Linked DNA regions of Homo sapiens: regions 2 and 3 are each reported to be linked to region 1. Evidence: microRNA targets listed by miRTarBase, many of them from high-throughput screens and not tested one by one. Region 1 holds a microRNA gene; each other region holds the end of a gene's coding sequence.
The links. The annotated mature microRNA hsa-miR-4635 reads UCUUGAAGUCAGAACCCGCAA and lies in region 1 at 1,314-1,334, opposite strand. An mRNA with a match to its seed (bases 2 to 7 or 8) in the 3' UTR can be bound and repressed. Matches are read on the target gene's strand: a 7mer-m8 pairs with bases 2 to 8, a 7mer-A1 pairs with bases 2 to 7 and ends in A, and an 8mer does both.

Region 2: miRTarBase lists RCOR1 as a target of hsa-miR-4635. The part of its 3' UTR that is shown has no 7-base or 8-base seed match.
Region 3: miRTarBase lists CCDC149 as a target of hsa-miR-4635. Seed matches in the 3' UTR shown: 7mer-m8 at 3,087-3,093, 7mer-A1 at 3,181-3,187 and 7mer-A1 at 3,336-3,342.

Annotation. Positions count from the first base shown.
Region 1 is chr5:1,061,591-1,064,937 of GRCh38, forward strand. It overlaps MIR4635 (microRNA 4635), which reads right to left and starts at 1,384; the gene lies at 1,306-1,384. SLC12A7 (solute carrier family 12 member 7) reads right to left here. Exons shown (of 24, transcript NM_006598.3): 19 at 2,493-2,662; 20 at 2,254-2,385.
Region 2 is chr14:102,726,267-102,729,266 of GRCh38, reverse strand. It overlaps RCOR1 (REST corepressor 1), which reads right to left. Exons shown (of 12, transcript NM_015156.4): 12 at 1-2,799. The coding sequence ends at 2,761. Among named protein-coding and RNA genes, the nearest start is that of TRAF3, 50 kb to the left of the region's middle.
Region 3 is chr4:24,805,755-24,809,101 of GRCh38, reverse strand. It overlaps CCDC149 (coiled-coil domain containing 149), which reads left to right. Exons shown (of 13, transcript NM_001395273.1): 13 at 283-3,347. The coding sequence ends at 713. Among named protein-coding and RNA genes, the nearest start is that of SOD3, 12 kb to the right of the region's middle. RefSeq lists an enhancer at 1-359.

The DNA of each region.
Region 1 (3,347 bases):
CTCACCCGCCGCACCCGGCTCATGGGAGTTGGGAGCAGCTGTGCCTGTTAAGCACCAGTATTTAAAACAGCACACCAGATCAGGTGCGGTGGCTCACACCTGTCATCCCAACACTTTGGGAGGCCGAGGCGGGTGGATCACCTGAGGTCAGAAGTTCGAGACCAGCCTGGCCATCATGGTGAAACCCCATTGCTACTAAAAATACAAAGAAAAAAAAAAAAATTAGCCAGGTATGGTGACGTGTACCTGTAGTCCCAGCTACTCAGGAGGCTGAGGCAGGAGAATTGCCTGAACCCAGGAGGTGGAGGTTCCAGCCTTGGGGACAGAGCGAGACTCTGTCTCAAAACTTTTTTTAAAAAAATAAACAGCATGCCAGACTGAATGGCAGCGACCCAGACGCCCCTCTCCAGCCAGGTGGCACTTGTCCCTGCGGCCAGGGCTACGGAGGGGTGGGCAGCCCCAGCCCTGCCAGAGACATGGCTGGGAGCATGGGGGGTGCTGGGAGCTCCAGGTTCCCGGACTTCAGAGCTAACAACCCCTGCTCAGGAGCTGGGGAGCTGCTTCTGGCACCACGGAGGGGCTGGGGGTGCGGCTGGGGCCATGGGCTCACTTTGCCTGTTTCCTCTGGGCCCCAGTGGCCGCCCCACCTGGCCCCCTGGCAGGGCTGGTTCTCCCAGGCAGCATTTTGTTACTATTTTACTAAGCGGTTTTATGACTTGGAAATAACGTTATTCATACGACTATTAGCACCAATAATAACCCCTACAACCTTGAACCCGCAAAGCCTCGTCCAAACAAGACAAACTCCAGCCATCGTCCCCGAAGACACAGCCACATGGAAACTAAGCCCAGTGTACAAAACTGGGCAGAAAACCATCCAGCGTCACGCAGGCCTGCAGCCCTCGGCCTAGGAAAGGTCCTGCAGGGCAAGAGGAAGAACAACCCCACAGGACAACTGAGTTCCACGGGAACTGACACAGAAACACAGAAGGTTGTCGGTGAGGCACGAAGCCGTGCCTGGCCTCACTCACAGCCCGACACAAACCAGGAGCAGGTGCTCGGGGCCTCTGCCATACCCAGGGCTGGGGGGCTGGGGGGCTGGGGGACTGAGGGACTGGGGGACTGGGGGGCTGCGGGGCTGGAGAGACCGCACCTCCCAGGCTGCTGCAGGGGCACAGGTGGCTTCCTGGGGGACAGCGTGACAGTCTCTATCCAGCTTTATGTCTTCCCAGCACCCACCTCCAGGAGTCCAGGCCCCTGAGGACCTGCAAAACCATGCGCTGGGGTCACGGGAGCCGGAAGAAACCAGGACTTTGCGGGTTCTGACTTCAAGACCAGTGTTGTCGGCGTGATCCAAGTGGGGTCAGAACCCACAAAGTCCCGGGACCGCCAGCAGGACCGGAGGGGAAGGCACAGCCGTGGATCCGGGTGGGCTGGTAGCGAGCAGGCATGGTTCCATCCAGCACAAGGGGCCCACCAGATCCCCAGGATCCAGAGCTCCATGCTTGGGGGCCGGGGGCAAGCGCTCCAATGCCAGGCCTCCGCCCATCAACCCCGTCCTCTCCAGGCGTGAAGGACGGGACGAGTCTCTGTCCAGGCCCTGCCTATAGCTGACCGAGGGCCTGTCTGTCCCACGTGACAGCTGCAGCCTGGCCTCACTGACCAGTGCCCCTCTCCCCGGGTCCCGACTGCTGATGTGTGGTTTCCAGCCGTGGGAAGGTGAGCCCATCTGGGGAGAGCACCCAAAACGGGAGGTGCTCAGAGGTGCACCCACCATGGCAACACCACTGAGGTGTGAGGTCCTGGACGGGGTCCCGGGCCGAGGAGGACACGGGACCATGGAGGACACGGAGATGCTGATGCCGGCTCTAGGGCAACACCCACACCCGTGTTACACGAGGTGTCCACAAGCAACACACGGGGCTCTGTGCTTTCTGTGATGTCCTGGCGATTCCAAAACCAAGCCTCCTTGACCACCCCGCAAGGCCTGGCAGCCCCCGCCACAATCGCCACCACCTTCTCCTCCCCACCTCCACCTCCACCTCCTGATCTCCCCCTCCACCCCCACCTCACGAGGCCACAGCCCTCCCGATCTCCACTTCCCCCTCCACCCCCACCTCACGAGGCCACAGCCCTCCCGATCTCCACTTCCCCCTCCACCCCCACCTCACGAGGCCCACAGCCCTCCCGGGCCGCCCCCCACCTCCTCCCCACCTCCCCCCGGCCTCCTCCCCTCAAGCCCTCGGGACTCACCATCTCCACCACCTCCACCTCGGCGCTGATGCGCAAGTGGTACAAGAACATCTGCAGGTCCTTCTTCATCTGGATGCTGTTGTCGTCCACCTGGGCCACGGTGAAGATACGCATCCGGCACTTCCTCCACACCTGCAGACAGGGAGGGCATGGCTGTGGGGCCTCAGAGGAGCCCGTCCCGGCCCGCAGCACGTGGGGTGGCCGTGCTCCGGCTGGCGTGTCCCCGTCGCACGCCCCACCTTGTGCTGGCGCAGCAGGAAGGGCAGCAGCATGAGCATGCCGCCGTCGTGCACGATCCACCACACGTCGATGTGGCCCCCGCCGAAGCGCTCCTGGTTTTGCGGAAACGAGTCGACGTTCTTGGCCACCAGCAGAGCCTGGTGCGCGGCGGTGGTGTCGCGGACGGTGTCTGCGGAGAGAGGCGGCCGTCCGCAGGTCATCTGAGGCCAGGGTGCGGAAGGGGCCTCCCCGGGGACTCACAGCCAGTGCAGGGGCGGGCACGGCGAGGCGAGGGGGGTCCCCACAAAGCCCCCACCCTCACTCCGTCAGCTCCTCCAAGGACCAGCCAGAGACTCACAGCAGAGTTCAGCTGCTGGTCATGTGTCCAGGGAATCCCCCAGCCCCTGCGGGGCTCTGGGAGAAGGGGAGGGAGTGCCTGGACACTTTCAGATGGCCGCTCCCAGGGCCAGGGCCTTCGACAGCCTCAGAGCACACACCCTCGGGTCGGTGGCCTCAAGGCCCATCGGGACCTGACAGCGCACAGGCCTGGGGACGTTGAGGGGACAGCGAGGAGACAGAGGGGACGGCGAGGAGACAGTGAAGGGATAGCGAGGAGACGGTGAAGGGACAGTGAGGGGACGGTGAGGGGACAGCGAGGAGACGGTGAAGGGACAGCGAGGGGACGGCGAGGAGACGGTGAAGGGACAGCAAGGGGACGGTGAGGGGACAGCGAGGAGACGGCGAGGGGACAGTGAGGGAACGGCGAGGGGACGGCGAAGCGACGGCGAGGAGACGGCGAGGGGACAGCGAGGGGACGGCGAGGAGATGGTGAGGGGACCGCGAGGGGACGGCGAGGAGATGGTGAGGGGACAGTG
Region 2 (3,000 bases), not on the chromosome of region 1:
CATCTACATAAAATTAAATAAAACAAACTTTTAATGCATATGCAATACAATTTATATCTTTTAGGAGTTCTAAACTAAAAGTTAAACTATTATTTGCATCAATGACACTATATTTTGCACAATAACTTATACTTAGGAGAAAATTTTCCACAAAAATATATATAATTATGACATTCACATTGATAATTTTTAAGAAGACAAAGCTTAAGTGAACATTCCATCTGAAGCAGTTATCACACCCCAAACCCTACCTGCCAATGCACCTAATTCTTGATATGTTAAAAAGTCTTCATATAAATAAGATCAAACCACTGCGCTTTTAAAGCTAAGTGATTTCTTACATTTACATCATTGCAAAGACAGTGTAATGCAACAGTTTAAAACACAGTGCTATCTTACGCGGGAAAGCACAACAAAGGCAGTCAAGGACAGCTCCCATTTTCCCTCTGTCAAATAAAAATGACATGCCCCTTCCTCTCGGGGAGAAAGCCCAGGTCAGCTGCTGTGATCACACGTGATTCTTCAGGGCTGGAGACCATTCAGTGCCAGGAACCAAGTAAAGGGATAGTGCAGAATACAGATCAAGGCCTGGCACTGCTGGTCAGTTTGCCACGCTATATAAAAATTAGCATCAAGCTTCCAAGCACTGCCAGGAGGGACCAGGCTATTTTCCTTAACAGAGATACAGACAGACCTATTGGCAGGGTGAGAAACGCACTGCAGCAATTGCCTACTGCTTCTGTTAGCAAGAAGGAGGTCTTGAGGGAAGCACGGAGAACCTAAAGCTTCAGCTCATACCTTAGTGTACCCTTTATGCAATGTGCAAACTTAGGCTGACTCCTTCCCATGCTTCTCCTGCCGCCCTCGGTGTACACAGCAGGCTTATGGTGAAAAGAAGCCTCTCCCTCATCACTAGTGTTATTTTGCTAACCCTGTCTCCAGGTAGCAGCAGCAATCCGGGACTCCTCTGATGCTTCCCAGGCTTTTACGTGACCAACACACACCTGGCACGGGAACGAGATGATGAAGGGCAGCAAGTCCCATTGTACTTTCCTTTTGAATGACCTTTCTCTCCAGACTATACTAAAAAAAAATTTACAATTCCAAAAAACCTAGGTTTCTAGCTGACCCTCTTTCTAAAGAGAAAATCAGCTGACTTCAACAACAACAACAACAACAAAAAACAAGGTGCTTGGGAGACAAAACATATCAAACTTTAATTGCATATTTTAAATTCTTCAGAATTCTGTTTAGGCCTTAAAGCATCTGCATTTTTTTGGTATTGAAAGCAGGAAAAAAATCCAAATGATGCAAACAACAACAACAACAACAAAAGCGACTTCAGCGTATTGAGTGCAGTCTGAATGGCCGTGGGGTGGGAACAGGGTATGTTAGAATGCAGGCTGTCTGCTCAACCCTCAGCAGGCCCATGGTCTGATAAGATAACAAAAGTGATTCTGGAAGTCTCAAAATGTTTATTAGAAATTTTTACTTGTTCCCAGTCCAACCAAAAGGCATTACAGACCACTCTGTAGGTTATTTCTTTTCATCTCAGTCTCACTAGACCAATACATTGATCACTTCTCTGTCCTGTACTCTGATATGAAAAGAGAGTGCATGGTGTTTGTGTAATCACATCAGCACATGAAGGACACAAACTGACATACAGAGTGCCACATAAAAGGCCAGGCACACCGAGAGAACGCGGAACAACGCGCAGCTTTCATAAACCAGCGCCAGCTATTCTAATATCCTGACATTTAAAATCTGCACTGTCAGAATCTGCAGCAAGCTCTCCCCTGTCTCCTAATCTCAGTGATGTCATCTTTGGCTAGCAAATAACTTGAAAGAAGAAATAAGACACTAAAACAGAAAAAGGATTGATAACCATGGTTGCCAAAAGGAGAAGGCACCAATTCCAAATTTACAAGCACCAGGTACAGTGATGTGGGCCGAACCTCTTGGAGGTGGGGGGGTGGGGGGGGTCAGGAAAAGATGGGGTGGCAACCACCCTGGGGTCACAATGCTGAAAAGTTGAAGGCAGAAAGCATTGAGGTCCACGTTCCCTTTAAGCTACAGTGTCCAACGACAGTTGCAGTAAATGATCTTTGTAACACTTGGGAAGGGAGAAGAGGGAGATTTAAGCCAACTCAATTTATAAATCATAACTGTACCCCATGTTTAGGGAAATGTGAGTTGCATCAGGATGCTTGGCATGATAAAGGTTATGATGCAGTCTGGCAATATATATTAGTTTCCAAAAAAGCGTATTATCACTTAGGTGGTTGTCTCAGAAAAGAACAAAAGAAACTTTCTAGAAGGCCAACAGGGTCGCGGTGACTCTGAAAATGACTCTATGCACAAAGTAGAAACTGCAGGCCATGCAGGAACAGAGTCGGGCCTTCCAAGGAGACTGCCTGCTCTGAAGCTGCTGACTGGGAAGAGCTGCCATTGGTGGGGCTCGGGGGCTCCGGCGGGAGAGGCGGTTCCCAGAGTCACAAGAGATGTGCAGGCCGTGAGACTTCCCCAGCACGTGGGCAGAGTGTGAGATGCAGTGGAGCTCTCTGGGAAGTGGCGCCAACATGGAGGAACGAGCAAAGAATTAAGGCAGATGGAGCACAGGACTGGAAGTATATGCCTTTTTTGGTAATAGCTGCTTGTCCAGAGAGATGTGATGCAGATGGCTAGGTGATGTCTCATAATACCTGATATCCCGGATAACACAGTAGTCCACACCAAGTGTTCAAAGCCACCAGTTTCTCAGGAGGCAGATGCATATCTGACATCCAGAACAGGAGCCTGAGGCCAAGAGGAAAAAAAAAAAAAAAAGGATCAAAGAGTAGGTAAACAACACAAGCTGCTATTTCCAGTGTACTGAAAAGAGAAGGTAGCCAGCAAACCTGCAGAGCAAACACCGAGTTCTTTTTTTTTTTTTTGGAGGGGAGACAGGTCTCACTCTGTCTCCCAGGCTGGAGTGCAGTGGCGCTATCTCGGCTCGCT
Region 3 (3,347 bases), not on the chromosome of region 1:
ACAGAAGCTAACCAGGTGCCTGGAAAGGATGGATTATGACATGGCCCAAGTGCTCCCTTGCCCTCTGTTAATAATGCAGGAATCACTAGAATGCATGCTCGCTGGTTTCACCTGGGTCCTGTGTTCCCCTTTGGCTCCATTGCCCTGCACAGGGAGCCAAAAAAGTCTTGCTCCTTTTTCAGAGGCCCTGTGCTGGTAGGCTGGGCAGGAGGTTGGCAGAAGAGGGGCGGTGAGGGCTGATTTGCTGCCAGAGGTTTAATGTTGTCCTCGTTCTGTTTTCAGGGGAGGCTCAGAAGCAAGAAGAAGATGAAAGTTGTGCCGCTGCTGAGGCGTTGACAGCGCCTGAGGATGCTGGGAGGCCCGCTGTCAACTCCCCAGCAAATCAGAGCCGCGGGAACCAATGCAAGCTCTTTCATCCTTCATTACCCCAGTTACCTTCTGAGGAAGAAGTAAACAGCCTTGGGAGGGAAATAATTAAACTGACAAAGGAACAGGCAGCTGCAGAACTGGAAGAGGTCAGAAGAGAGAGTCCCATAGAAGGTCAGAGGAGTGAGACGGGGCCAGCCCCGCCAGGCCTGGCCATCCAGGGGGAGCTCCCTAAATCTCACCTGGACTCCTTCGAGGCCAGCCGGCCAGCAGCCAAAGCTTCCACACCGGAAGACGGCAAAGGGATCCCAGAGGGCGGAGGCATGAGGAGCACCGTGAAAACCTGAAGGGGAGAGGGATCTGACACAATGACACATTGAAAGCCCCAGAGAGGGTCAAGAATGAAGCATCGGAATGGTGCGCTCACGTCGCCTTCTCCTGAAATACCTCCGAGTCTGCAAGTGAGAAAACGCACTGATCCTGTTGCAAACTGTGAATATTCTGATGATGCCAGTACAGTTTGATTTATTAAATGTAGGTCCTCAAGCTTCTCAGTGTCATCTCTTTTCTGCCAGAGAGTGCTACTGTGAACAGGGCCAGGCCCAGGAATCGTGTCCACCATATGGCTGGTTTTCAGCATCCGTCTTTCTGTCAGCTTTTGTTTTATCAGAGATAAGATGTTTTTGTATTAGCATTTAATGTTGTCAATCAAAATTATGGGAAGAGCTAGAAACTGATGGGGTTTTTAATCAGGTCCCCATCTTGGTCAAGGTTAGGCAGCTGGAGAGGAAGGTATAATTGAGCAAAACGTGTCCAGAGGACCCATGGCTGCACCCCATCAAGTCAGGGCCCAGGAGGACTGCCTGGCATGGGTGTGCTTGGCATTGTGCCCACAGCACTGCTGTCGTGGTACAGACTGGCAGTTGGAAGGGGCCTTAAGCCGGCTGAGAAGTTTGGGCTTCTGGGTTGAAATCCACAGCCCCGGTTGAGGCCTGTGTGCTGAGTGCCAGAGCTGGAGTTTTCTAGCTTGTAAATCTGGAGAATTAACTGATCTGAAGTGACTGGGAGGGGTGAGCATAAAAGCCGGGGAACAGGACTCCCAGTGGTGGTCTGGTTTTTTTTGTGAGATGAGATGAGAGCTACCACCTGGAAATGCTCATTCTCTGCATTCAGCCTGTCTCACATACAGGATTGTATGGCCATTTCAGGTTTGGGAAAGATCTACCTGCTGGGAGCCAGTCTAGTTTCCTGCACCACCTGGAACTTCCAAACCCTTCACTCCTTCAACAGAATGTTGAGGCTGCCTCATTTGTGCCACCAAGTACGGGAATCTTAAAGACAGAAACAGAGCTCATGACCTTTTATGGGAAAGAGAGAGGAAAACAAAACAACTTCACAACAGCATGGCAAGGGGGGATGTGGAACCAAGGACATGATACAGGGATGGGAAAGGAGGGCATGCTCAATTCTAGCTGGTTCTTTCCTTTCAGATAAAAATGAGCTTTTCTAGTTGGCATCCGGCACTGCAGAAAACTAAAAGTCATCCAGCCATAGCTTTTTCCTTCCCTGGAAAGCCTGAGACTAGATCCCAAAGCTCAGAATGCCTCTGAGAACCAGAATCACTCCTTTGAGAGGCGCTCCTTGCAGGAAAAAGAGAGGCTCCCAGAGTGGTAGCCTCTCAGTGAAAATGCATCCTAAAAATTCAATGTTTATACCAGGCTCATGACACTAAGATGTGACATCTGGACACGAGGGGTCAGCCACGTGGATACATCCCTCCCAGATTGCATCTCCAGGAATCACTCTGCTAGCAGAATGGGCGCCCCATCCCTTACTATGCTGCTCCTCCTCAAAGTGCAGCCCAGAAGGACCCAGGCCTTTGATGCACATTGGGTGGGTCTCCCACTACTTTAGTTGAAATGGGAGCATGCTGGAGTCGGCGTTCTGTTGCTTCTGGTGAGAAGGACATCCCATTGACCCCTGGCCACCAGGTCCAGTATTCCATCCTTCCTTCTGTCCCAGCCTATCGCCCTCCCCACCAGGCCCACCCCCACAACTTCTCCTCAAGGGAGGTTGCTCCCGCAGCTGGAGGGCTTGCACAGACCAGCAGTCACAGAAATCATTCTTCCTGCTGTACTGGGCCTTAACTGCCTGCAAATGTCCAGCACTACTGCATAGGATGCCAGAGCCACCGAAGGAAAACACAGCCAAGTTTAATAATAATAAAAGGAAAAATCTCAGCCTGCAGAACTCTGGTTTTGACCCACCATCGGCCAGATGCACATCTTCAGGGCCTGTTGAGCACCTTCTGAAAAGCAGGGCTCGTAATAGACTCCAGCACATTCCATCAGAGTCAGGAAAACTGCAGTGAGTCCCAGAGAATCTAGGGTGCAGGGCAGGGAGCAGGAGTCATAAGGAGTGATAACCTAAACTGTGTGTAGTCAGCGGGGAGGGTCTTATGTTATCAGGTGAAATGAGAGCCAGTAAGTTAGTTGATCCTGTCACAGATATAACCCTGATAACACCCCATAGATACGCGACACGTGTGTCCTGCCCCTGCTTTCCCCATCCAACATGGTTCTTCTGTTCCACAGACATTAAAGGGGCTTTCTGCAATTACTTACAGCTGTCTTTTGTCTTTTTTAGGATCAAAGTTTAAGGTTGTGGCATTCTGTCCCCTACTTCACTAGATAACCCTGCATCAGTCATGGTCCTCTCAGCTTCAAGCCACACTTAACAGAAACTTAAGCGGTAGGGAAATGAATTATGTTGTATAACAGGAACTTCGAAAGTAAGGCATTCCAGGGCTATACATTCAAGAAAGTTGTCAAGGTTCTAGGTTTCCATCTTCCTGCTCTTCCTGCTGTGTCAGCTGCTTTCTCATGATAACGAGGTGGCTGCAACAGCTCCAGATAACACCTGTTCAAAGGCAGAAGGAAGTTTCTTCCCACATACGTGTGTGTGTGTGTTTCAAGAGCGAG